Regions from separate parts of the Homo sapiens genome. Here regions 2 and 3 are each linked to region 1. The links come from fine-mapping of genetic effects on gene expression. A gene starts in region 1. Each other region holds a variant in brackets. All regions are shown on one strand. Distances are from middle to middle. Region 1 holds the start of SPNS3 (SPNS lysolipid transporter 3, sphingosine-1-phosphate (putative)). Region 2 overlaps SPNS3 (SPNS lysolipid transporter 3, sphingosine-1-phosphate (putative)). Region 3 holds the start of LOC124903899 (a long non-coding RNA gene).

What was found. PIP is the estimated chance that this variant, and not a neighbour inherited with it, causes the effect.
Region 2: its variant is the best candidate, but not a certain one, in a credible set for the expression of SPNS3 in whole blood (INTERVAL, PIP 0.84).
Region 3: its variant is the best candidate, but not a certain one, in a credible set for the expression of SPNS3 in cerebral cortex (GTEx, PIP 0.62).

What each region holds. Positions count from the first base shown.
Region 1 is chr17:4,430,747-4,438,919 of GRCh38, forward strand. It overlaps SPNS3 (SPNS lysolipid transporter 3, sphingosine-1-phosphate (putative)), which reads left to right and starts at 3,194. Exons shown (of 12, transcript NM_182538.5): 1 at 3,194-3,420. The coding sequence starts at 3,222. RefSeq lists an enhancer at 3,256-3,910.
Region 2 is chr17:4,452,743-4,460,915 of GRCh38, forward strand. It overlaps SPNS3 (SPNS lysolipid transporter 3, sphingosine-1-phosphate (putative)), which reads left to right. Exons shown (of 12, transcript NM_182538.5): 8 at 274-463. Among named protein-coding and RNA genes, the nearest start is that of SPNS3, 23 kb to the left of the region's middle. The variant C/G (reference allele first, on the strand shown) is at 4,649.
Region 3 is chr17:4,486,290-4,494,462 of GRCh38, forward strand. SPNS3 (SPNS lysolipid transporter 3, sphingosine-1-phosphate (putative)) reads left to right here. Exons shown (of 12, transcript NM_182538.5): 10 at 1-37; 11 at 123-294; 12 at 1,517-1,915. The coding sequence ends at 1,605. SPNS2-AS1 (SPNS2 antisense RNA 1) reads right to left here. Exons shown (of 3, transcript XR_001752763.2): 3 at 3,584-3,702. It overlaps LOC124903899 (a long non-coding RNA gene), which reads right to left and starts at 163. Exons shown (of 2, transcript XR_007065583.1): 1 at 1-163. RefSeq lists enhancers at 154-233, 3,362-4,561, 3,872-4,372. The variant C/G (reference allele first, on the strand shown) is at 3,085.

The sequences.
Region 1 (8,173 bases):
TTGAACTCCTGACATCGTGATCCACCTGCCTCGGCCTCCCAAAGTGCTGGGATTACAGGTGTGAGCCACTGTACCTGGCCTGTTTTCAGTTCTTTTGGATATATACCTAGGATTGGAATTGCAGGGCCATATGGTAATTTTATGTTTAACCTTTGGAGGAACTGCCAAACTTTGTTCCACTGCGGCTGCCTTACTCCACATTCCCAGCAATGCATGAGGCTTTCAATCTCTCCACCAACATTTGTTATTTCCTCTCTCTCTCTTTTTAAAATTATAGCCGTCTTAGTGGGTACGAACTGATATCTTATGGTGGCTTCAATCTGCCATTTTCCTAATGACTTGTGATGTTGAACATTTTTCTTTCTTTTTTTTTTTTTCCCCCGAGATGAAGTCTCGCTCTGTCACCCAGGCTAGAGTGCAGTGGTGTGATCTCAGCTCACCGCAACCTCTGCCACCCGGGTTCAAGCAGTTCTCCTGCCTCAGCCTCCTAAATAGCTGGGATTACAGACACATGCCACCACGCCCAGCTAATTTTTGTATTTTTAGTAGATATGGAGTTTCACTATGTTGGCCAGGCTGGTCTCGAACTCCCAACCTTGTGATCCACCCACCTGAGCCTCCTAAAGTGCTGGGATTGCAGGCGTGAGCTACTGTGCCCAGCCTGAACATCTTTTTATGTGCTTGTCGGTCACCTGTATATCTTCAGAGAAATGTCTGTTCAACTCCTTGGCCCATTTTTGTCCCCCTGATGTTTTTTTTCTTTAGAGATGGGATCTCACTCTGTTGCCCAAGCTGGAGTACAGTGGCATGATTATAGCTCACTGTGGCCTCAACCTCCCAGGCTTAAGTGATCCTTCCACCTCAGCCTCCAGAGTAGCTGGGACTACAGGTCCATGCCACTATGCCCGGCTCTTCACCCATTTTTAAATTGGTTTGTCATTTTATGCTTTAACTTTTTGTTTAGATATAATTTATAACTTATAGAAAGTTTATCATATAGCGTAAAGAAACTCTTATAATCTTTACCCAGATTCATCTATTATTAATATTTGCCCCATTTGTTTTCTTACTATACATATCTAATATTTTTTCCTGAACCGTTTGAGAATGAGTGGCATAAATCATGGCCCTGTACCTCTAGATACTTCAGATAAGGATATTTACTTATTTACTTACATAACCATAGTTCACAGATGCTGATATGCTATTTCTTCCTGATCCAGTTTTATCAGTTGATCCAGTACAGGAGCGAGGTTGGGATCCTGTACTGCTCTTAATTGTCTTATTGTCTTGTCTCTCTTTTTTTTTTTTTTTTTTTTGAGACGGAGTCTTGTTCTGTCACCCAGGCTAGAGTGCAGTGGCACGATCTTGGCTCACTGCAACCTCTGCCTCCCGGGTTCACATGATTCTCCTGCCTCAGCCTCCTGAGTAGCTGGGACTACAGGTGCACACCACCACACCCAGCTACTTTTTTGTGTATTTTTAGTAGAGACAGGGTTTCACTATGTTGGCCAGACTGGTCTCGAACTCCTGACCTCGTGATCCGCCCGCCTGGGCCTCCCAAAGTGCTGGGATTACAGGCATGAGCCACCGCGCCTGGCCTATCTTGTCTCTTTGTTGCTTTTAATCCAAAACAGTCCCTCAGAATATTTTTTTTTTTTCGAGACAGAGTTTTGCTCTTGTTGCCCAGGCTGGAGTGTAATGGCGTGATCTTGGCTCACCACAACCTGTGCCTCCCGGGTTCAAGCAATTCTCCTGCCTCAGCCTCCCGAGTAGCTGAGATTACAGGCACCTGCCACCATGCCTAGTTAGTTTTGTATTTTTAGTAGAGACGGGGTTTCTCCACATTGGTCAGGCTGATCTTGAACTCCCGACCTCAGGTGATCCACCTGCCTCGGCCTCCCAAAGTGCTGGGATAACAAGCGTGAGCCACCACGCCTAGCTCCCTCAGTCTTTCTTAGTCTTTCATGACTCTGACATTTTTCAATATACAGTCCCTTTAAAGAAATAGTGTTTCTCAATTTGGGCTTGTCTGATGTTTTTTCATTTTAAAAATTAAAAAAAAAATTTTTTTTTTTGAGTTGGGGTCTTGCTTTGTCACCCAGCCTGGAGTGCAGTGGCACGAACATGGCTCACTGCAGCCTCGACTTCCCAGGCTAAGGCGATCCTTCCTACCTCAGCCTCCCAAGTAGCTGGGACTGTGGACGCACACCACTACACCCGGCTATTTTTTTTTAAAATTTTTTATTTTTTTGGTATTTTTGTAGCAATGGGGTTTCACCATGTTGCCCAGGCTGGTCACAAACTTCTGGGCTTGGATGATCCTCCTGTCTTGGCCTCCCAGTGTTAGGATTACAGGTGCGAGCCACCGCGTCTGGCTGATGTCTTCTCATGATGAGATTCCGGTTGTGCCTTCCTGGCTGGAATGCCACATAGATGATGCTGTGACCTGCGAAGACCTTCACATCTGGAGGCACACGACACCCTCCTGCCTCTCACAGGTGATTTATTTTAACCCCTTGGTCAAGATGTCTGATTCCTCTACTGTATAGTTACTCTTTTTCCTTTTGTTACTAATAAGCAATCTATCAAGAGATGCTTCGTGACCGTGCTGACACCCTCCCCCCTCACTGAAGTCTTCCCCCCAGATTTAGCCCCCACTGATGAGTTTTGCACACAGGCTGTCTTCTTGTAGGCAGCCCCCTCTGCTACCTTTGTTTTTCCGGGAAGGACCTTAGATCCTGGGTAGGTGCTCATCCTGCCTGGCAGTCGAGTGCAATGCTGCTGTCCTGGCCAATGCCCAGCCTTCCTCATTTGCCCCGGCTTCAAGGCATTGGTTCACAGTCCCGTACGGGCAGCTAGACCATCTCACAGCAAGCAGCACTCTGGGAGGCTCATCTCATTTCCTGCCCTGGAAGCTTCCCTTCCTCACTGCAGCCACTGAAGCTGCAGGCTAGATCAAGGGGACCACAGAGTTGTCCAGTCCCCAGGGTGGGGGTGCCAGGAGCCCTTGTCCTCCGTAGCAGGTCTCAGAGGCTGACGATGGGGAAATCGCACTGGTGAAGCTGCCGTGGGGTCAGGAGGAACCTGCGATAAGACGCCCAACAGTTAGGGCAGGTGCTTTGAGGTTTGGAGCCTGGGACCCCACAGGAAGTGACTTCGTGCTGAGCTAATGTTGCTTCATCCTGGCGCCAGTCTCAGGCCAAGAGCTGCAGGCTGGCATGGCTGGGGGGATGTCAGCGGAGTGCCCTGAGCCTGGGCCAGGAGGTCTGCAGGGCCAGTCCCCAGGGCCAGGCAGGCAGTGTCCCCCTCCCATCACGCCCACCTCCTGGAGCCTGCCCCCGTGGAGGGCCTACGTGGCTGCCGCCGTCCTCTGCTACATCAACCTCCTGAATTACATGAACTGGTTCATCATTGCAGGTGAGGAGGGGATGGCTACCCTGGGCAGTACCTGCTGCTGTGCCCACCAGCCAGGGGCTGCAGATCCATGGTGGCCTTCCAGCCATCACCCATCTTTCTGCTCCTGGGCCCATCTCTGGTGTTCTCACCTCTAGAGGTGGTTTTCAGCTGTGCTCGAATCGGGGAGGACCAACTGATGTTCCCAATCCAGCCTCAACTAAGAAGGGACACAGGCTGGGCATGGTGGCTCCCGCTTGTAATTCCAGCACTTTGGGAGGCTGAGGCAGGAAGATTGCTTGAGCCCAGGAGTTTGAGACCAACCTGGACAACATAGTGAGACTCTGTCTCTATTTATTTATTTTTTTTTTTGAGACAGAGTCTCGCTCTGTCGCCCAGGCTGGAGTGTAGTGGCGCAATCTCAGCTCACTGCAACCTCTGTCTCCCAGGTTCAAGTGATTCTCCTGCCTCAGCCTCCCGAGTAGCTGGGATTACAGGCGTGCACCACCACATCCGGCTAATTTTTGTATTTTGAGTAGAGGAGGAGTAGGGACGGGGTTTTACCATGCTAGTCAGGCTGGTCTCGAACTCCTGACCTCAGGTGATCCACCCGCCTCGGCCTCCCAAAGTGCTGGGATTACAGGCATGAGCCACCGTGCCCGGCCTTTTTTTTTTTTCTTGAGACAGAGTCTCAATCTGTTGCCCAGGCTGGAGTGCAGTGGCGCGATCTCGGCTCACTGCAACTTCTGCCTCCCAGGTTCAAGCGATTCCTATCTCAGCCTCCCGAGTAGCTGGGACTACAGGCGCATACCACCATGCCAGGCTAGTTTTTGTATTTTTAGTAGAGACGGGGTTTTGCCGTGTATGCCAGGCTGTCTCGAACTCCAGACCTCAGGTGATCCGCCTGCCTCGGCCTCCCAAAGTGTTGGGATTATAGGCATGAGCCCCTGCGCCCAGCCGAAACTCTGTCTCTATTTAAAAAATTAAAAATATTTTAGGGCTGGGTGCGGTGGCTCAGGCCTGTAATCCCAGCACTGTGGGAGGCCAAGGTGGGCGGATCACTTGAAGTGAGGACTTTGTGACCAGCCTGGGCAACATGGTGAAACCCCGTCTCTACTAAAACTACAAAAATTAGCCGAGCATGGTAGCGGGCACCTGTAATCTCAGCTACTGGGGAGGCTGAGGCAGAGAATTGCTTGAACCTGGGAGGTGGATGTTGCAGTGAGCCGAGATCCCACCATTGAGCCAAGATCCCACCATTGCACTCCAGTCTGGGCGACAGAGCAAGGCTCTGTCTCAAAAAAAAAAAAATAAAAAATAAAAAATAAATAAATAAATAAATATTTTTTAAAAATTAAGGGAGGGCACAGTGGGGGTGGGGCCAGAGACATAATGAGGGGTGGGTGGGTGAGGACAGCAGGCAGGACTTCCAGGCAGAGGCCCCCAGGTTCTAGGTGGAGGACAGGGTAGCCTGGGCCAGACAAGAATAGCTCCTGCTGGCTGTGTTTCTAGGACAACAGGCTGCTCGCAAACCTCACACGTCCTGCCTTCCTTCTTGCAGGCTTCAGGGCTCAACCTGCTCTGTCTTCTGTCACTCATTCACTAACTCACTCACTCATTCATTCATTCAAGACTGATCAGGGGCCAGGCGTGGTGGCTCACGCCTGTAATCCCAGCTACTCGGGAGGCTGAGGCAGGACAGTCGCTTGAACCCGGGAGGCGGAGGTTGCGGTGAGCTGAGATCGTGCCACTGCACTCCAGCCTGGGCGACAGAGCGAGACTCCGTCTCAAACAAAGACAACAACAATAACAACAGCTGATTGAGGCTCCACTTGCTCTTCTCTTCTTGTCATTCATTCATTCAAGACCGGCTGAGCACTAACTGTGGGCAGGACCCCCTGCTGGCTGCTGTGGACCCAGGGAGGAAATCGGACTTGGAGTTCCTGAACTCAGGAATGACCATCTCATGGGGCAGAGATAGAGGCTGGTTGATGGCAGTCCTGCGAGGCGGAGAGGTGCGGCCAGACAAGGGGGAGGCACAGGCCGGGCTGGGAGCTCAGGAGGGTGCCTGCAGCTGCCAGGCATCTCTGAGACCTGGGCATCGATCTGTCAGTTACCAGCTCAGCATGCCAGAGAGTGGCTATGGAATCATGAAACTCTAGGGGCTGCAGAGCCATCCCCAGACCTGGTCATCGTCTTTGAGGAGCTCAGAGGTCAGGAGCTTCTCCTCACATGAGGTCAGGAGTTCGAGACCAGCCTGGGTAACATAGAAAAACCTTGTCTCTACAAAAAATTTAAAAAATTAGCCAGGGACAGTGATGTCTTCAGCCTCTCGGGAGGCTGAAGCAGGAGGATTGCTTGAGGCTGAAGCAGGAGGATTGCTTGAGGCTGAAGCGGGAGGATTGCTTGAGGCTGCGGTGAGCCCTCTAGCCTGAGTGACAGAGCAAGATCTTATCTAAACCCCTAAAGACAAAAAGCCAAAACAAAGCAAAACAAAACACATGAAACAAAAAACCCCAAAGGGGTGTATGGGGTGAGAACAGAGCTTCTTGGGTGCCAGACTGGGAGCTTGGACTTTCTGCCTTGGGCAATGGGGAGCCATATAATTGGATTTGAGGCCCTGATGGAGGCAAAATGAGCCAGGGAGTCAGTTCAGAGGCTGCTGTAGTGGATCAGGCCAAAGCTGAGGAGGCCTGAGTTGGAGTGTGGGCCAAGGGCACGCAAAGGCGAGAAGGGGCAAGAGGTGGATGGGAGCCAGGAATCACCAGTGTGGAGCTCTCTGAACCCACGAGCCTGGGGACCCGCTATCTCTGCCGCTAGCCCTGGAGGTCCCTGGCTGGGCCCTAAGACCCTGAGTCTTGCCTGTCCAGGTCCCTTCTCCATCAGCACTTCCTCTGTATGTGCAAGAAAGGGGGCTGTGGTTACTGTGGGGATAGAGACCTGGAGAAGTGAAACCGTGCTGAGCATCTGGGAACTGGTGGGGGTAAACAGCTAAAATGTTCTTGCAGGAAACAGCTCTTATGGGGCCAGGGTGGTAGGCTACAGATGAAAGCAAGGGTGGGTGCACGCTTGGCTCTGGATCACCTCTAGAGTACCATGGGGCTGAGAGGAGCCCAGGAGGAGAGAAAACAAGGGGATGAGTCCTCATTCCTGAAAATGGAAGATGGGCACAATTTGGAGCATTTTCGTTTAGCTATTTATTTTGCTTACCTGTGTTGTCTCCTTTTTTTCTTTCCAATGACTGTCTTCTTTGTGTATTTAAAATAATAAAAGGGGGACTTTGAGAGGCCGAGGCAGGTGGATCACCTGAGATCAGGAGTTCGAGACCAGACTGGCCAAAATGGTGAAACCCCGTCTCTACTAAAAATACAAAAATTAGCCAGGCGTGATGGCGGGCACCTGTAATCCCAGCTACTTGGGAGGCCGAGGCAGGAAAATTGCCTGAACCCAGGAGGCAGAGGTTGCAGTGAGCTGAGATCGTGTCACTGCACTTCAGCCTGGATGAAATAGTGAGATTCAGTCTCAAAAATAAATAAATAAAATAAAAATAAAAAACAAAATATTAAAAGGGGAAAAAGACATAACAGTTTGTATGCCAGGTTGCAGTGGCAATTGGGGACAAATTAAATGTCTAAACAAAGATTTCTTTTTTTTTTTTTTTGGAGACGGAGTCTCACTCTGTCGCCCAGGCTGGAGTGCAGTGGCATGATCTCAGCTCACTGCAACCTCCGCCTCCCAGGTTCAAGCGATTCTCCTGCCTCAGCCTCCTGAGTAGCTGGGACTACAGGCCTGTGCCACAACATCTGGCTAATTTTTTGTATTTTTAAATAGAGATGGGATTTCACTGTGTTAGCCACGATGGTCTTGATCTCCTGACCTCAAGATCTGCCGGCCTCGGCCTCCCAAAGTGCTGGGATTACAGGCGTGAGCCACCACGTCCCTCCCTGAGCAAGGATTTTTTGCTTTGCTCCTCTGATCCCTTGATCTTCATGTGCATGGGGCAGCTCTTAGAGGTGTGCACGCAGGGCTTTCTTGGTGTGGGTGTTTCTGCGGGGACCCACTTGGGGGCTTCTGCTCCCCTTCTGTGGTTCTGGGTGTGTGGACAGGCTGCCTCTGGCTGAGATTTGAGCCCCAGCTCCCCCAGCTTCAGACGGGCAACCTTGGGCCGCTAAAGCCTCTGTTTCCTCATCTGTAGAATGGGGGCAATGACAGTCCCCCTCTTTTAGGATGACAACTGCGAGTGTACAGCTCAGGGCCTGGCTGTCAGTCACCTCCTGACTGATGAAAGTGAGGATTGTTCTTCTTCATAATAATGACAGGGCCAGAGCCGCATGGCTCACGTGAGCAGGTGCTGCAGACCCCGACCCTTTCTAGGACACCAAGAGGCTATCAGGAAACAGACCCTGGTGTCTGGGAGACCCACTTTCTCTCTCTACATTAGGCTGGGTGCCCACTGCTGTGCCTCTGGAAGAACAGGCTTGTGTGTGCACATGCGTGCAAGCCAGGACACGTTCGTCTTTTTATGTACATGTTCACCTATGCATTTCCAGTGTTTGTGCATGAGCGAGGCCACTGTGCTGTACAGCTCCAGGGACTTCCGTTTACACAGTGGCCTAAGTAAAGGGCTGTGCACTGAGCAGCGACAGGGGGCTGCCGCTCCTCTGACTGCAGTGTGGATGGCAGCCCTGAGCCTGTGCATACGCGGGCAGGCCTCTGGGTGCACATCTCACTGCACATGTGTCTGTGTGTCTGGGTGTATGAGTGAGGCTGGGTGTAC
Region 2 (8,173 bases), 22 kb after region 1:
GATCACCCACATGGCCAGTGGGATCCCCAGGATGAGACAGGAGATGAGGCAGGAAAGGGGGTAGGGGAGAGCAGTGGGACATTGGTCCCTGGGAGTATCAGTGAGGAGGGTGGGTAAGGTTCTGGGTCAGGTCAGGGGCCCACAGCCATATTCCCTGTAGACACCAGATCATGCACTTGAGCCGAGGGGCTAGACCTGGGGCTGGGAGCAGGATAAGAGTCCCTATGCTAAGCTCACCCAGCTGACCAACCCTTCTGTGCTCTTCCCCATCAGCCTGATTTTTGGGGCACTGACCATCATGACCGGCGTCATTGGGGTCATCTTGGGGGCAGAAGCTGCGAGGAGGTACAAGAAAGTCATTCCAGGAGCTGAGCCCCTCATCTGCGCCTCCAGCCTGCTTGCCACAGCCCCCTGCCTCTACCTGGCTCTCGTCCTGGCCCCGACCACCCTGCTGGCCTCCTATGTAAGTGAGAGCCTCTATGGAGGTGGGGACAGGGTTGGGGGGCGAGGAACTCCTGTTTCCACAGGCTCATGCTGCGCCCGGCCTTTATGTACAATTATGTTGATCACTCCTTCTGAGTAGAGCTTGTTATCCCCATTTTACAGATCAGTAAAGAGAAGCTTGGCTGGACGCGGTGGCTCATGTCTGTAATCCTAGCACTTTGGGAGGTCAAGGCCGGCCTGGCCAATATGGTGAAACCCTGTCTCTACTAAAAATACAAAAAATTAGCTGGGCATGGTGGCAGGCACCTATAATCCCAGCTGCTTGGGAGGCTGAGGCAGGAGAATCGCTTGAACGCGGGAGGTGGAGGTTGCAGTGAGCTGAGATTGCGCCACTGCACTCCAGCCTGGGCAATGGAGCAAGACTCCATCTTGGGGGAAAAAAACAGAGAGAGAAGCTTACCAGGAGTTCCACAGTGAAGAAGGGGCAGAACTGGGATTTGAGCCTGAGCTTTTCTGACTGTAAAAGGTGTCCTCTGAGCATTGGGTTAATGTGTTAATTTGAGAAAATAGGACTCATTTATTGCCAGGGCATATTGTGGGCCCAAGAAGAAATAGAGCAATTCTCCCCAGGTTACAGAGGAGGGAAGCAAGGCCCAGATTGGTTATGGCCAATGTGGACGCTGCTTTAAGGGCAATAATCATGGTAATATCAAGTGTTCCAAATCCACATCCCATCACACCCCTTCATGGGCCTCACACTCTGGCTGTGCCAGCCGTGTGGGCACACACACTTCCCAGACTTTGCACGCGTCCATTTCTTCCACCAAGAACACCAGTTCCTCTTTTGTGCATCCTGAAATCCTCCTTCTGCAAGACTCAACTCAAAGTCCGCTTCCTCCAAAAGCCTTCCCCTACCACTCTATCCTCACACCAGAATTCACGTTCCCACTTGGGCTCAGCACCTGTTTGGGTCCCATGAGGCACCAAGGTTTATGGGGCCTGTCCACAGACAGGGAGCCCAAAGGGCAGGACCAGAGCCAGAGGGTCCCTGTGTGCAGCCGTGTCCCTGGCTCCCCAAAGCCCCAGCCCTGCCTGTCCCCCAACATGGGAAAGGGCTACTGCTTCTGGGAAGATGACGCCAGCCCAGCCACAAGCAGAGGGGCTAGACCTCTCCTCCTTTCCCAGCTCCATGGCCCTGGGCCCTGTGGCTGCAGACACAGATGCGCTTGCACATGTTAACCAGGTTTACTGAGCAGACTGGACTTTGGAAAAGTAAACCAGCCACAACTTTATTGTCCTCACACTAGTTTGGCTGCATCTCCTACCCATGGCCAGAGCCCATTGCTTCTCTAGTCACACACATGAACTAAACAGTCTGGTCCCACTGAAATCAAAACAACTTTAGCCCTGCTTCCAAATAAAGCTTTTTTTTTTTTTTTTTTTTTTTTGAGACAGAGTCTTGCTCTGTCGCCCAGGCTGGAGTGCAGTGGCACGATCTTGGCTCACTGCAACCAACCTCCACCTCCTGGGTTCAAGTGATTCTCCTGACTCAGTCTCCCAAGTAGCTGGGATTACAGGCACACACCACCAAGCCCGGCTAATTTTTTTGTGTATTTTTAGTAGAGACGGGGTTTCACTATGTTGGCCAGGCTGGTCTTGAACTCCTGACCTCGTGATCCACCCACCTCAGCCTCCCAAAGTGCTGAGATTACAGTCGTGAGCCACTGCACCCAGCCTTTTTTTTTGAGACTGAGTCTCACCCTGTTGCCCAGGCTGGAGTGCGGTGGCGCGATCTCAGCTCACGGTAACCTCCGCCTCCTGGGTTCAAGCGATTCTCCTGCCTTAGCCTCCCAAGTAGCTGGGATTACATGTGTGAGCCACCACGCCCAGCTAATTTTTGTATTTTTAATAGAGATGGGGTTTCGCCACATTGGCCAGGCTGGTCTCAAACTCCTGACCTCAGGCGATCCGCCTGTCTCGGCCTCCCAAAGTGCTGGGATTACAGGTGTGAGCCATCACGCCCAGCCCCAAACAAAGCTTCTATCCGGACCAGAAAACTGCCTTGGGAAGAGGCAGGGCTGTCGTCCGGTTTTGTTCTCCTTGTTCCATCTTCTACCCCAACATCCCTGACATCTCCCCTCCCCTTGCGATTCTGTCCTCTCCAGAGATGAGCAGGCAAGGAAGGATGACTGAGAACAGGCCAAGTATTGCCTGTGTCCGGAGCTGTTTCTGCTGACTGTCGGTGCCCCACATGTGGCAGATGCCCAGAGGCGGGGTGTGGGGGGTACTTTGTGGGCGTTTTGGGGTCTCTGGCCCTGGTTTTTGCTTTGCCCAATTCCTTGATGCAAGGGTTGCCTTTCCAGCCAGGCTGTCTTGCCCCGGTAGGCAATCCTGCAAGGGGCCCCCTCTCATGAGCACCGTGTCTCCCTCCACGGTGTCCATCTGAGCCCTGTAGGATGTCGGGAAGGGAGGCCTCCCCCACTGCCGCCCTCTCCCCTCCCACGACACTGCAGACTACTCCATCTGGCATCCCCACCCACAGACTTCCCTTGGGGGAGTCAGGGCCCAGGGTCCATTCTCCCCGAATGCCAGATGACATGCATCTGAGTGTCCTAAAGACGTCTTCTATGCACGCCCCTCAGGCTGTCCTGGTATAGGAGGCTCAGCATTTAGCCAGCGTCCAGTCAGGGAGAAAAGGCCAGCTTCCTTCCTGGCAAGCACTGCCCTCTGTGGGGGGGGGGTGAGTGTCACCTGAAGCCCCTCACTCAGCTTAAGAGTAGAACTCTTTATTCTTTATTTATTAACTTTTTTAGAGATGGGGGCTCTCACTATGTTGCTCAGGCTGGTCTTGAACTCCTGGGCTCCAGCAATCCTCTTGCCTCAGCCTCCTGAACAACTGGGACTACAGGCGTGCACCACCACACCAGGCTAATTTTTGTATTTTTAGTAGAGATGGGGTTTTGCCATGTTGCCCAGCCTGGTCTCGAACCCCTGTCCTCAAGTGATCTGCCCATCTCAGCCTCCCAAAGTGCTGGGATTACAGGCATGAGCCACCGCGCCTGGTCAAGAGCAGAACTCTTTCAATAAATCCTCCCCTGAGCATGACTTCCACGCAAGCAGTGGGGGGCCAAATGGGATAGCTCTGTTCTCTCGCCGAGTCCTGAAGGTGTGCTGGCACCTCTCTTGAGATGTGGGCACTGCTCATCCCTTGTTCTCAGCCTTGGGTCTCTGCAGAAATTCCTGAAGACTAGAAAGTCTTGTCATTCTCTTCTGCACGTGCTCTTATTTAGTCCTCACGACTGACACTTTTGTGGGGAAGGTTTTTTCTTTTCATATTTTATTTTATTTTATTTTTTTGAGACGGAGTCTCTCTCTATTGCCCAGGCTGGAGTACAGTGGCACGATCTAGACTCACTGCAACCTCTACCTTTCAGGTTCAAGCAATTCTCCTGCCTCAGCCTCCCCAGCAGCTGGGATTATAGGGGCATGCCACTAATTGTTGTGTTTTTTGGTTTTTGTTTTTGTGTTTTTTTTGGTTTTTTTTTTGAGACAGGGTCTCACTCTGTCGCCCAGGCTGGAGTGCAGTGGAGCGATCTCAGCTCACTGCAACCTCTGCCTCCCAGGTTCAAGTGATTCTCCTGTCTCAGCCTCCTGAGTAGCTGGGATTACAGGCCCATGCCACCACACCCAGCTAATTTTTGTATTTTTGGTAGAGATGGTGTTTCACCATTTTGACCAGGCTGGTCTCAAACTCCTGACTTCAAGTGATCTGCCTACCTCGGCCTCCCAAGGTGCTGGGATTACAGGCATGATCCACCACGCCCAGCCTGGAAGGTTTTTTCTTATGCCATTTGACAGGTTGGAAAACTGAAGCCCACAGATAGAATCAGGTAAATAGTGGGACAGACAAAACTCCAACACCTGGCTGGGTGCAGTGGCTGACGTCTGGAATCCCAGTATTTTGGGAGGCCAAAGTGAGAGGATCACTTGAGCTCAGGAGTTAGAGACCAGCCTGGACAATGTAGCAAGACCCTGTCTCTACAGAAAATTAAAAAATTAGTTGGACATGGTGGCACATGCCTGTAGTCCCAGCTACTGGGGAGGCTGAGGCTGGAGAATTGTTTGAGCCCCAGTGATAGAGGCTGCAGTGAGCTCTGATCATGCCACTGCACTCCAGCCTGGGTGACAGAGTAGGACCCTGTCT[C/G]AAAACAAACAAACAAACAATCAACCTCCAACTTGGCCGTGACGCCTCCAAAGTCTGTGTCCTTCATAGTGCACTGATCCAGAAACAGCGGGGCACACCCCAGGCACTAGTAAATCCCTTAATGCTTATTGACTGAGGGAGGGGACCATCACTTCTGGCTGGTGGGAGCTGATGGGGGCTGGTGGGGCCTGACCTCACAGGGAGGCTGGGGCCCAGGCAGATGGAGGCCCCATCAAAGCTGTCCCTGTACCAGCCAGCTGGGGCTGGGGGCCCCCTGCCAGCCCTGCTTCTGCCACTGTCTTGGTTGGTTCTGGGAGGTGCTCCTTGGCTGTGTTTTGGGGACACAGCTGCCCCCCCCTCACCCCCTGCACCCTGCAGCCTGGCGCATCTCTAGAGCTGGTTGTCTCATCCAGAAATGACATTGCGTCTTGGCCGCCAAAGCCAGCTGGAGAAACTCTTCTTTAGGCCTGCCCTGGGGGTTGGGGCTGAGGGGCAGAAAGGCGGGCAGGGCCAGAGTGCATCCCTCCTCTGGCGCTGGGAAGCTGCTGGGTCTGGCATGGTACCCACCGATGCTGAGCCTCTGCGGCCAGAACTCTAACCCTCAGAGGTGATGCCATCCCGCCCCCACCCCTTGGCTCTGTCTGTGCCTCCGTAGAATGCTCGGATGTTCTGACCTGAGATTCAGGCTCCAGTTCTTCCTTCCCAACAACTGTCAGTCACAAAGCCCTTGACCTCTCCCAGGCCTACCCTCCTCTCCGTCCTCTCTGCCCTTCCCTGGCTCATGCCTTGCTGTCTTTCTCCAGAACTGTTCTAGAAGCCACCTTCCTGGTCTCCGTGTCTTCCTGCTCACCCACTACAGTCTGTTCTTCTGTTCTTCACACACTGCCAGAGTGAGCTAGCTAGCTTGCTTGCTTTTTCTTTCTTTTCTTTTCTTTTCTTTCCCTCCCTCCCTCTCTCCCTTCCTCTCCCTCTCTCTCTCCCTCCCTCCCTTTCTTTCTTCTTTCTTTCTTTCTTTCCATTTTCTTTTTCTTCTTTCTTTCCTTCCTCCCTCCCTCCCTTCTTTCTTCTTTCTTTCTTTCCATTTTCTTTCTTTTCTTCTTTCTTTCTTTCTTTCTTCCCTTCCTCCCTCCCACCCGCCTTCCTTCCTTCCTTCCTTTCCTTCCTTTCTTCCTTCCCTCCTTTCTTTCTTCCTTCCCTCCTTTCTTTCTTTCTTTCTTTCTTTCTTTCTTTCTTTCTTTCTTTCTTTCTTTCTTTCTTTCCTTCCTTCTTTCTTTCTTTCTTTTCTTTCTCTTTTCCTTCCCTTCCTTCCTTCCAGACAGGGTCTCCCTGTGTTGCCCAGGCTGGTCTTGAACTCCTGGCCTCAAGTGATCCTGCCCATGCTGCCTCCCGAGTAGCTGGAATTCAGGCATGTGTCACTGTGCCTGGCTGACAGAGTGAGCTTTCTGACACCACCTCCCTTCCCTGCTCAAAAGCCTCGCATGGCTCCCTGGTGCCTGTGGAACTAGGCCCAGCCCCTTATCCCGGCATTTAAAGCCCCTCATGAACTTCTCCAATAACCTTAGGAGCCTTATTCCTCCACTGAAGTCCTGCCACGCAGGTCCCCTCTTGATTCCCTAGTCATTCCTCCCCTCTCCCTCTCTTTCCCCATCCTCACTCCCTTCTCCATGTGTCCAGAGCATTCTAGGCCTTCAAGGGCCAGCTTACCACCGTCTCTCCATGGATTCCTCCCTGGTTGCTGGGCCTGACCCTCTCTCCCTTAGTACGCCCAGTGTTGTCGTCCTGGGGTCTCAGTTACGTACGTTCTGACTCCTCTCCCAGCCCTGTCTGTGAGTTTAGCAGGGTCCAGGTCTGGTTCTAGTCTTTCTCTGCACTCCAGCTTGAAGCACAGTGTCAGGCACGTGGACAGGTGGGTGAGGTAAGTCACTGCTGGCTGAGTGAAGAGTCGAGTGACAAACTGTTTGTATTCATTTGTTTATTCAACCAATATTTATTGATTGTCAATTAAGTGGCATACTAGTTTAAATGCTGTAGATATAGGCAGCTGGGTGCGGTGCTTCATACATGTAACCCCAGCACTTTGGGAGGCCGAGGCAGGCGGATCACCTGAGGTCAGGAGTTCAAGACCAGCCTGGGCAACACGGCAAAACCCTGTCTCTACTAAAAATACAAAAAATTAGCTGGGCATGGTGGTGTGTGCCTGTGGTCTCAGCTACTGGGGAGGCTGAGGCAGGAGAATCGCTTGAACCCAGAAGGTGGAGGTTGCGGTGAGCTGAGATTGCGCCATTGCACTCCAGCCTGGGCGACAGAGCGAGACTCCATGTCTAAATAAATAAATAAATAAACCAATGCCGTAGATATAGCAGTGAATAAAACAGACAAAAATGTCTCTGTCCTGAGAGAACTTACATTCTAGTTGAGGGAGATAGATAACAAACAAGATATATAAGTATTGTGAATTTTATTGTAAAATTCAGAGTATTTCAGATAATAATAAAGGCTTAGGAGAGAAGTATTGTTGGGAAGGAAATAGGGAGAGTGTGAGTATTGGGAGGAGAGGGTAGCAATTTTTTGTAGGGTGGCCAGAGAGACCTCTCTGAGAAGGTAGTTGTTGAATAAAGACCTGTAGGGGGTGAAGTAGTGAATTATGTGGATATTCGGGGGAACAGTGTTCCAGGTAGAGGGAACAGCAACTGTGAAGGCCCTGAGTCAGGAGTGTACCCGATGGGTTTGAATAACAACAAGGCGGCTACTGTGATTAGTGCAGAGAGAGAAGTGGGAGAGGGACGTGAGGACAGAGAGATGATGGGTGCCAGATCATGTAGGATGTTGTGGGCATTGGGTGAGATGGAGTTTTGTTCTAAGAAGTGAGACATCTGGCTTTTGTCTTCCGCATCTATTGAAATTATCATGTAGTTTTGTCCTTTATTCAATTTCTACAGTTTATTACATTGACTGATATTTATATGTTTAACCAACCTTGCATTCCTGGGATATGTTTGCCATGGTCATTGTGGGTAATCATTTTTATGTATTGCTGGATTTTTTTTTTTTTTTTTTTTGAGACAGAGTCTCACTCTGTGGCCCAGGCTGGAGTGCAGTGGCGTGATCTCGGCTCACTGCAAGCTCTGCCGCCCGGGTTCACACCATTCTCCTGCCTCAGCCTCCCGAGTAGCTGGGACTACAGGCGCCTGCTACCACGCCTGGCTAATTTTTTGTATTTTTTTTTTTTTTTTAGTAGAGACGGGGTTTCACCTTGTTAGCCAGGATTGTCTCGATCTCCTGACCTTGTGATACACCTGCCTCAACCTCCGAAAGTGCTGGGATTACAGGTGTGAGCCACCGTGCCTGGCTGAATTGCTGGATTTGAGTTTGTAGTATTTTGTTGAGGATTTTTGCACGTACATTCATAAGAGATATTGGTCTGCAGTTTTCTTGTGGTGTCTTCATCTGGTTTTGGTATCAGGGTAGTGGCCTTGTAATGAGTTGGCAAGTGTTCCTTCCTCTTCTGTTTTTTGGAAGACTTCA
Region 3 (8,173 bases), 56 kb after region 1:
CCTGGGAGACGCTGGCAGCCCCTATCTCACAGGACTTGTAAGACGTGTCTGCGTGTGTGGGGTGGGGAGGGTCTGGGGGCCAGGCTGGTGGGCCTGGCAGACTCATCCCTTCTCCTCCGCAGATCTCTAGTGTCCTGCGGGCCAGGCGCCCTGACTCCTATCTGCAGCGCTTCCGCAGCCTGCAGCAGAGCTTCCTGTGCTGCGCCTTTGTCATCGCCCTGGGGGGCGGCTGCTTCCTGCTGACTGCGCTGTACCTGGAGAGAGACGAGACCCGGGCCTGGCAGCCTGTCACAGGTACCCTACCCATTGCACCAGGCCCGGCTCAGGGCCGGCACCCTAGGGACAGACAGCACTGGCCACCCCCTGAATCCCTGGCCAGTTTGTTTGTTCATTCATCCAGAAATGCTTAGTACACCCCTGCTATGTACCAGGGAAGGTTGCAGATGCTGGGGAGTGAAAGAATGAGGCCAAGTCCAGGCCCCTGTAGAAACTGACACTGTAGTTGGTGAAGACAGACCAGAAACAGAAAAGGTTAAAGATATAGCATGTTCAGGGTGACGAGTGCTATGGAGAGGTATAAAGCAGGAAAGGAAGGAGAAAGGGGCCGGGCGCGGTGGCTCACACCTGTAATCCCAGTACTTGGGGAGGCCAAGGCGGGCGGATTACAAGGTTAGGAGTTCAAGACCAGCCTGGGCAACATGGTGAAGCCCTGTCTCTACTAAAAATATAAAAATTAGCCAGGTGCGGTGGCACACACCTGTAGTCCCAGCTACTCAGGAGGCTGAGGCAGGAGAATCACTTGAACCCGGGAGGCGGAGGCTATAGTGAGCTGAGATCTCGCCACTGCACTCCAGCCTGGGCGACAGCAAGACTGTCTCAAAAAAAAAAAAAAAAAAAAAAAAGGGACAGGTAGGTGCAGGCTGCAAGGATCCCCACTGCACAGGCGAAACTAGAGCAAAGATCTGGAGGAAACGAGGGAGTGAGCCGTTCAGCGACCTGGGGAAAGACGCTTCCGGCAGTGGGGACAATCAATGCAAAGGCCCTGCCATGGGAATGCACCTGATATGTTTGAGGATCAGCAAGGAGGCCAGTGTGGCTGCAGCAGAAGCAAGAGGGACAGTGGTAGGGGTGAGGGATACGGGGCCAGAGCAGGCAGTCCTTGTAAAGACAGTGGCTTTTGCTCAGAGTGAGACGGGAGCTGCTGTGGGGCTTCCAGGAGAGGAGCACCGAGGTGGTCTGATTGATGTTGCCAAAGCATCTCCCTGGCTGCTGTGTTGAGAACAGACTGTAGGAGGGTCAGTGTTGAGGCCGAGAGGCATAGCCGACTCCCCTTCCAGGGGAGAGTGGTGCCTAGACCACGCCAGTGGCATTGAAGGTGATGACAAGGGGTTGGATCTGGAATGTATTCTGCATTTGGGACAGAGAGGATTTCCTGACAGCCCGTGCCCAGGCCCAGGCCTGGTCCCAAAGCACCTTCTGCAACCTTCGGGCAGGCTGAGCATCTTTCCTCCTGCAGGGACCCCAGACAGCAATGATGTGGACAGCAACGACCTGGAGAGACAAGGCCTACTTTCGGGCGCTGGCGCCTCTACAGAGGAGCCCTGAGGTCCCTGCCTACACTCGTCCTGCCTGCAAGCCTCCCGTTGGTCCCCACAGCAGCAGTGCCTCGGTTCCTCTTTGGCTGTCCTCGGGGACTCCGGCTGAGGCACATCTGCCACTTTTGAATTCCCGGCTGGAGAGCTGGCAGGACCCTGTGGCTGGGCTGGGAATGGAGCTGTCAGCACTCTGCGTGGGAGGCCTGGGCCTGTGCCTGCATCCCGCTCAAGGCTGCCCCAGCCTGGGGTCTCCAGCCTGGCTGCTGCTGGGCCCTGAATAAAGAGAGGCCAGTACAAAGCCCATGGATTTTGGGCCTGTAGACAGCCGTGTTATTTATAGCCTCTCGTGCCTCTGCTGGAGGGGAAGTGGGTGAGGACGGGATGGGCAGTCCAGGCCAAGGATGCAGGGCTGTCCTGAAGTGGGGAAGCTGGGGGGCTGGCTCAGCATGGGTCTCTAGGGGTCCGCAGCCTGGACCTCCCACTCTGACCCAGCTTCTCCATTCTGCAAAGTCACAGGCACAGGACACCCTCTACGTGATTCCACTCTTTGTTTTGTTTTGTTTTTGAGATGGAGTTTAGCTCTTGTCCAGGCTGGAGTGCAGTGGCGCAATCTCGGCTCATTGCAACCTCCGCCTCCCAGGTTCAAGAGATTCTTCTGCCTCAGCCTCCTAAGTAGCTGGGATTACAGGCATGTGCCACCACGCCCAACTAATTTTTGTATTTTTAGTAGAGACAGGGTTTCACCATGTTGGCCAGGCTGGTCTTGACCTCCTGACCTTAGGTGATCCGCCAGCCTCGGCCTTCCGAAGTGCTGAGATTATAGGCATGAGCCACCGTGCCCAGCCAACTCCACCCTTTGAACAAAACGTGGGGGCTGAATCTTGCTCTTGGAGATGAGTTTCCACTTGGGTGCTGGGGTGGGGATGTGGCTCCAAGTTCCAGGGAACCACGCAGAGGAACCCACGCCTATACAGACACGGGCGCAGCGGCCCCAGAACCCTGCTGAGGACTTGAGTGGCCGTGCAGGGATCCTCCTGGCCTGCCCAGTTCTGTAGCCCCGGTCTTCCCTGGGTCCACGCTCTGACCCCAGCACAGCGTATGGGGAGGGCTGGCTCTGCGGGGCCCACGCTTGCCACTGGGTTCAGAGCAGCTGGGCTCAGCGGGCCCTGTGGGAGATCGACAGCTTCCAGGCGGGCAGCAGTGGGGAGGCTTGTTCTCATGTTCTTTCCGCCTCCCCTGGTGCCCAGCCAGGCGATCACTTGCTCACTCACCGATGGCCACCTTCGCTGTGCCAGGCTGTGCCTGTCTCCCAGCAGCTGCAGGCAGAGCAACGACCGAGACTCCTGCGCAGCCCCTGATGCTTGCTGCTCTGTCCCTGCCTTCTGTGGGGTGCCCCCCAGCCCTCCCTGTTGGCTGCAACAAGCCCCAGGAGCAGGGCCGCACCACAGCCAGCCCTCCCTGCAGGCTAGCCAGGCCCTTGACCGTGACT[C/G]AATGCTTGGAGCTTATGCAACAGGCAGCCCTTCAAGTTACAAGGTAAAAGATCTGTGAGGATATTTTGTTTTTCCTGAGAAGGAGGCAGCAACTGGGCAGGAGCCAGGATGCCACGGTCCCTCTCAACATTCACTGGCTGTGTGACCTAGGTGGCTCCCTGACTCCCTGGCTGTGTTTGAGAGGTGTGTTGACATGGCTTTCTAGCCTGGGCCTCATGTGATTAGCACAGGCTGGGTCTAGACCCACAGAAGCCCAGCTCCAGGGTCTGAACCTTCCTCCCAACAGCCCCAGGGAGGACCCCTGCAAGGCGAGGCTCCCGGAAAATGAGTGAGGGCCGCCCAAGGGTCAGAACACTCAGCTGGGCACAGCGGCTCACGCCTGTAATCCCAACACTTTGGGAGGCAGAGGCTGATGTATTGCTTGAGGTCAGGAGTTCAAGACCAGCCTGGGCAACATGGTGAAACCCCGTCTCTACCAAAAATACCAAAACATACCTGGGCGTGGTGGCACGCATCTGTGGTCCCAGCTCTGGGAGGCTGAGGTGGGAGGATCGCTTGATCCTGGGGATGGGGGGTGGAGTTCGTCGTGAAGGGAGATGGCACCACTGCACTCCAACCTGAGTGACACAGTGAGACTTTGTCTTAAAAAAAAAAAAAAAAAAGAACACCAGCTGCCACCTCCCCACCCAGAGTCCAGTAGAGGAAGAGCAAGAACCTCGTTCATGCCAACTCTACAAACATGCATTGGTATCGGCGGGTGCCCATCAGGGTGTCCAGCAGTGAATCAGACTCCAGCCCTGCCCTTGGACCTCGCAGCCCACAGCAGGACAGGCAAGTGTGGCACACCTATGGGCAGAGTAAGGGCTTCCGTGCCCCAGAAGCCTTCAAGGAAGTGGCTTTGGAGTTGGTAACAAGGTGGGGGGCAAAGGGAATTCTAGATGCAGGGGATGGACCCACAAAGAGGGGGAGAGTGGGGCAGAAGATTTGCAGTGAGTCATGGAGGGGTGTGGTATGGCCAGAGAGGAGGGTGCGTGTGTCATTGAGCGGGGAGAGGAGGTGAGAGAGGCCATCTGGGATCAGAGGGGCGTCAGATGTAGGTCCAGGAGCTGGGGCTTTAATCCTATAATCCAGGGTAGTTTCTTATGACTCAAGTGCATTCTGATATTTGGGTTGCTGGGCAGGGCAAGGCGGTACTTCCCAAGGCTGAGCCACACGAGGTGCCCAGCTGGGAGTTTATAGGAAGCTATTGTCTAAAGTGGTTTGGGGCAGAGTGGGAGCTCTGGGGCTGGTGGACGCGGCAAGTGACAGAGACCAATATCTCCTCTGCAGCCAACCCAGACTCCCACCTCCTGCCTCTTTGGGGCCAGTCCTGGTGGGTCGAGGTTACGATAACAGCCTGGGGGAACCCAGCCACTCAGGCTGGAGTGGAGTCTGGTAAACAGAACACATCTTCCTCGCCTAAAGGCCCTTGTTGGGTAATCTCAGCCACGAATACTCTGGACTTGTTTGTTGGGAATGTCAAGAGGAGGAAAAATGCTGTTCAGCAGGATGAGTCCTTAAGCCTGACCTGACTCTCTTTATGTGTTAATTGCTCTTTCCAGACATAAGCTGCATTCCAGCTGTCAGGTATTATCCAGGCATGGAGGTATCTCTGTGTGCGTGTGCCTGTACCTGTGTGTGCATCACCATGTTGGCGTGTGGCCACATGGGGGTATGCTAGCTATTGGAACCAATACCAACAGGTATTAGTAAAGCTTTTTTTTTTTTTTTGAGACGGAGTTTTGCTCTTGTTGCCCAGGTTGGAGTGCAATGGTGCAATCTCAGCTCACTGCAACCTCCGCCTCCCGGGTTCAAGCGATTCTCCTTCCTCGGCCTCCCAAGCAGTTGGGATTACAGGCATCCACCACGCCCGGCTAATTTTGTATTTTTAGTAAAGACGGGGTTTCTCCATGTTGGTCAGGCTGGTCTCAAGCTCCCGACCTCAGGGGATCTGCCTGCCTCGGCCTCCCAAAGTGCTGGGATTAAGGCTTGAGCCACCGCACCCAGCCTTAATTTTTCATATTTTTAGTAGAGACAGGGTTTTGCCATGTTGGCCAGGATGGTCTCGAACTCTTGAGCTCAGGCAATCCACCCGCCTCAGCCTCCCAAAGTACTACAATTACAGGTGTGAGCCAATGCGCCTGGCCTAAAAGCTCTTTTTCCACTTTGTCCTGAAGGTTGAGGGGGTTGAACCTGTGTGTCTGGATTCCCACACCCTAACCCTGGCTTGTTGCTCTGCAACATCAAATATTGGTCTGTTTCATTCCCTGAAGTGTTTGACTTTGCTTTGTGCCTGGGTGGGCTTGGGAGGTTGTTTAATCTAATGCAGCCTCTACAGACAAAGCTGGCAGCAGGCAGCTGGAGGTTCCGGGAGCCATGCTTTATCTCAGCACAGACAGGTGTGTGACTGCGTGTGCTCCTGTGTGACCATATCAGTTTGGGTTGTGGGGTTGTATGCAACGGAAACAGACTGACTACCTCTACCAGGCAAAGGATGCATTGAAAGCACATCAGGAACTCATAGAATTGATGAGAAGGTTGGAGATTCAGGAGCCAGGGTTCCTGGGCCATATTATTTTGGGGTCTGTGCCAGAACTCCAGATATTTTATCCCTATTCTTTTGCCACCCTCCTCAAGATTTAAAGCCCTGGGCAAGAGATTCCAGTTGGGTTAGCTTGGATCCTATACCCATGCCTTGGTTTATAGCCGCATTAAGACCAGCAGACCAGTGTGCCGTTAGGAAGAGGAAGGAAGTCTCAGCACCAAAACAAAACAGGAATTAAAACAAGATGACAGGCTGGGCGCGGTGGTTCATGCCTGTAATCCCAGCACTTTGGGATGCCAAGGTAGGTGGATCACCTGAGGTCAGGAGTTCAAGACCAGCCTGGCCAACATGGAGAAACCCCGTCTCTATTAAAAATACAAAAATTAGCTGGGCTTGGTGGTGCGCACCTGTAATCCCAGCTACTCAGGAGGGTGAAGCAGGAGAATCGCTTGAACTCAGGAGGCGGAGGTTGCAGTGAGCTGAAATCGTGCTCCAGCCCGGGCAACAAGAGTGAAACTCCTTCTTGGAAAAAAAAAAAAAAAGAAGAAGAAAGAAAACAAGATGACAGAAAACAAAAACAAAGGTAGCATCCACTACAATATCTCGGGCAGGCCACTGGCCATCTCTGAGGTGCAGCCTCTCCATGGGATGGGGAAGAGGCTGGACTCGATGCCCTTCGGTGGAGTCTTTATTTCTGATAGTCTGCATCCATGATGAAAAGAGACTGAAGCTTCTGTAATGTAGAAAGTGTTAAAAATGTTCAAATGGCAGAACAGGAACTTCTGTGTTAGTGGGGACTCAGAGCCATCTGTTCTGAGCAGGAGAGAGAGGCAGAGACGAAGCGTTCTGAGCAAAGATAGGCTCGGGCTGGGGGAGGGAACGGGGGCCCCAACCAGTCCTCAGCTTGGCAACAGCAAGAGCAGAGAGGAGGTGCCTTCTCCCCACCGTGGGTGGTGACCTGCGGGGAAGGCTAATCAAAGGGTGGAGGCAAACAGCAGGTGGAAGCTAATGGAGGGTGGAGTCAATCAGGAAGAAAATGCCTTTTCCAGAGGAACCAGGAGACGAATCTGGTTTCTGAGTCATTCAGAGCAACAGACGCGTGATGCAAATCAATGTACATTTCCTGAGCACCTGCTAAATGTCATTTACTCATTCAATCAACAAACATTCTTTGAGCACCTCCTCTGTACTGGCTCGTGGAGATGAATCAGAAAGGGTACGGGCCCTCGAGGCTCACGGTCTGTTGGTGAAGGGCGGGGGACAGATTCTTGCACAGACAAAAATCAGCACAGTGTTGGTGTGATGGAAGGATACACAGGTTACTCAATAGCCCAGAGGAGGAAATGGTTGTTCAGGTGGGCCGGGGAAGGCTTCCCGGAGGAAGCTGTTTCTGTGCTGGGTTCCTGAAGGACAAGTGGGAAGAGTGAATAGGCCACACAGGCAGAGCATGCCTCAGTCAGGGTCGGGGTCAGGGGTTGCACGCGGGATGCTCTCCATGGTCCTGAATCATCGCTGTGCTAGTGGGACAAGGGCTTTTTTGTTGATAGGAGGACAGGGGCTATAGAATAGTGCCCCAATTCTTGCCCCTCCCCCAGGCTCCAGGAAGTATTATAACTGTGAGTTCAAGAAGCTCCATGTTCAGTGTGGCAGAGGGTAATTTTGAGAGATGGGCCGTAGGATCTGAGGCTGGAGATTGTCATGGGTTGTGAAAAGTTGTGAAGGCTCTTGGAGATCATTAAGGAATGTAGTTTTTTTTTTTGAAACAGAGTCTCGCTCTGTCACCCAGACTGGAGTGCAGTGGCGCGATCTCGGCTCACTGCAAGCTCCGCCTCCTGGGTTCACGCCATTCTCCTGCCTCAGCCTCCCGAGTAGATGGGACAACAGGCGCCCACCACCACGCCCAGCTAATTTTTTGTATTTTTTAGTAGAGACAGGGTTTCACCATGTTAGCCAGGATTGTCTCGATCTCCTGACCTCGTGATCCGCCCGCCTCGGCTTCCCGAAGTGCTGGGATTACAGGCGTGAGTCACTGCGCCCGGCCAGGAACGTAGACATTTTTAACCCTATAGCCAGTGAAGAGCCTTAGAAAGGTTTTGCTCAAGGTAGTGATGAGGTCCTTTGTGGGATTCAGAAAGTGACTGATAAGCAATATGGAGAAACGACTGGAGGGCCGGCCGAGCACAGTGGCTCACGCCTGTAATCCCAGCACTTTGGGATGCCAAGGTGGGTGGATCACTTGAGGCCAGGAGTTCGAGACCAGCCTGGCCAACATGATGAAACCCCGTCTCTACTAAAAATAAAAAAAATTAGCCGGGCATGGTGGTGCACACCTGTAATCCCAGCTACTCAGGAGGCTGAGGCAGGAGAATTGCTTGAACCCAGGAGGCAGAGGTTGCAGTGAGCCGAGATTGTGCCATTGCACTCCAGCCTGGGTGACAGAGCAGGACTCCGTCTCAAAAAACAAACAAACAAAACTGGAGGGGGATGTGGGAACAGGTAATGTT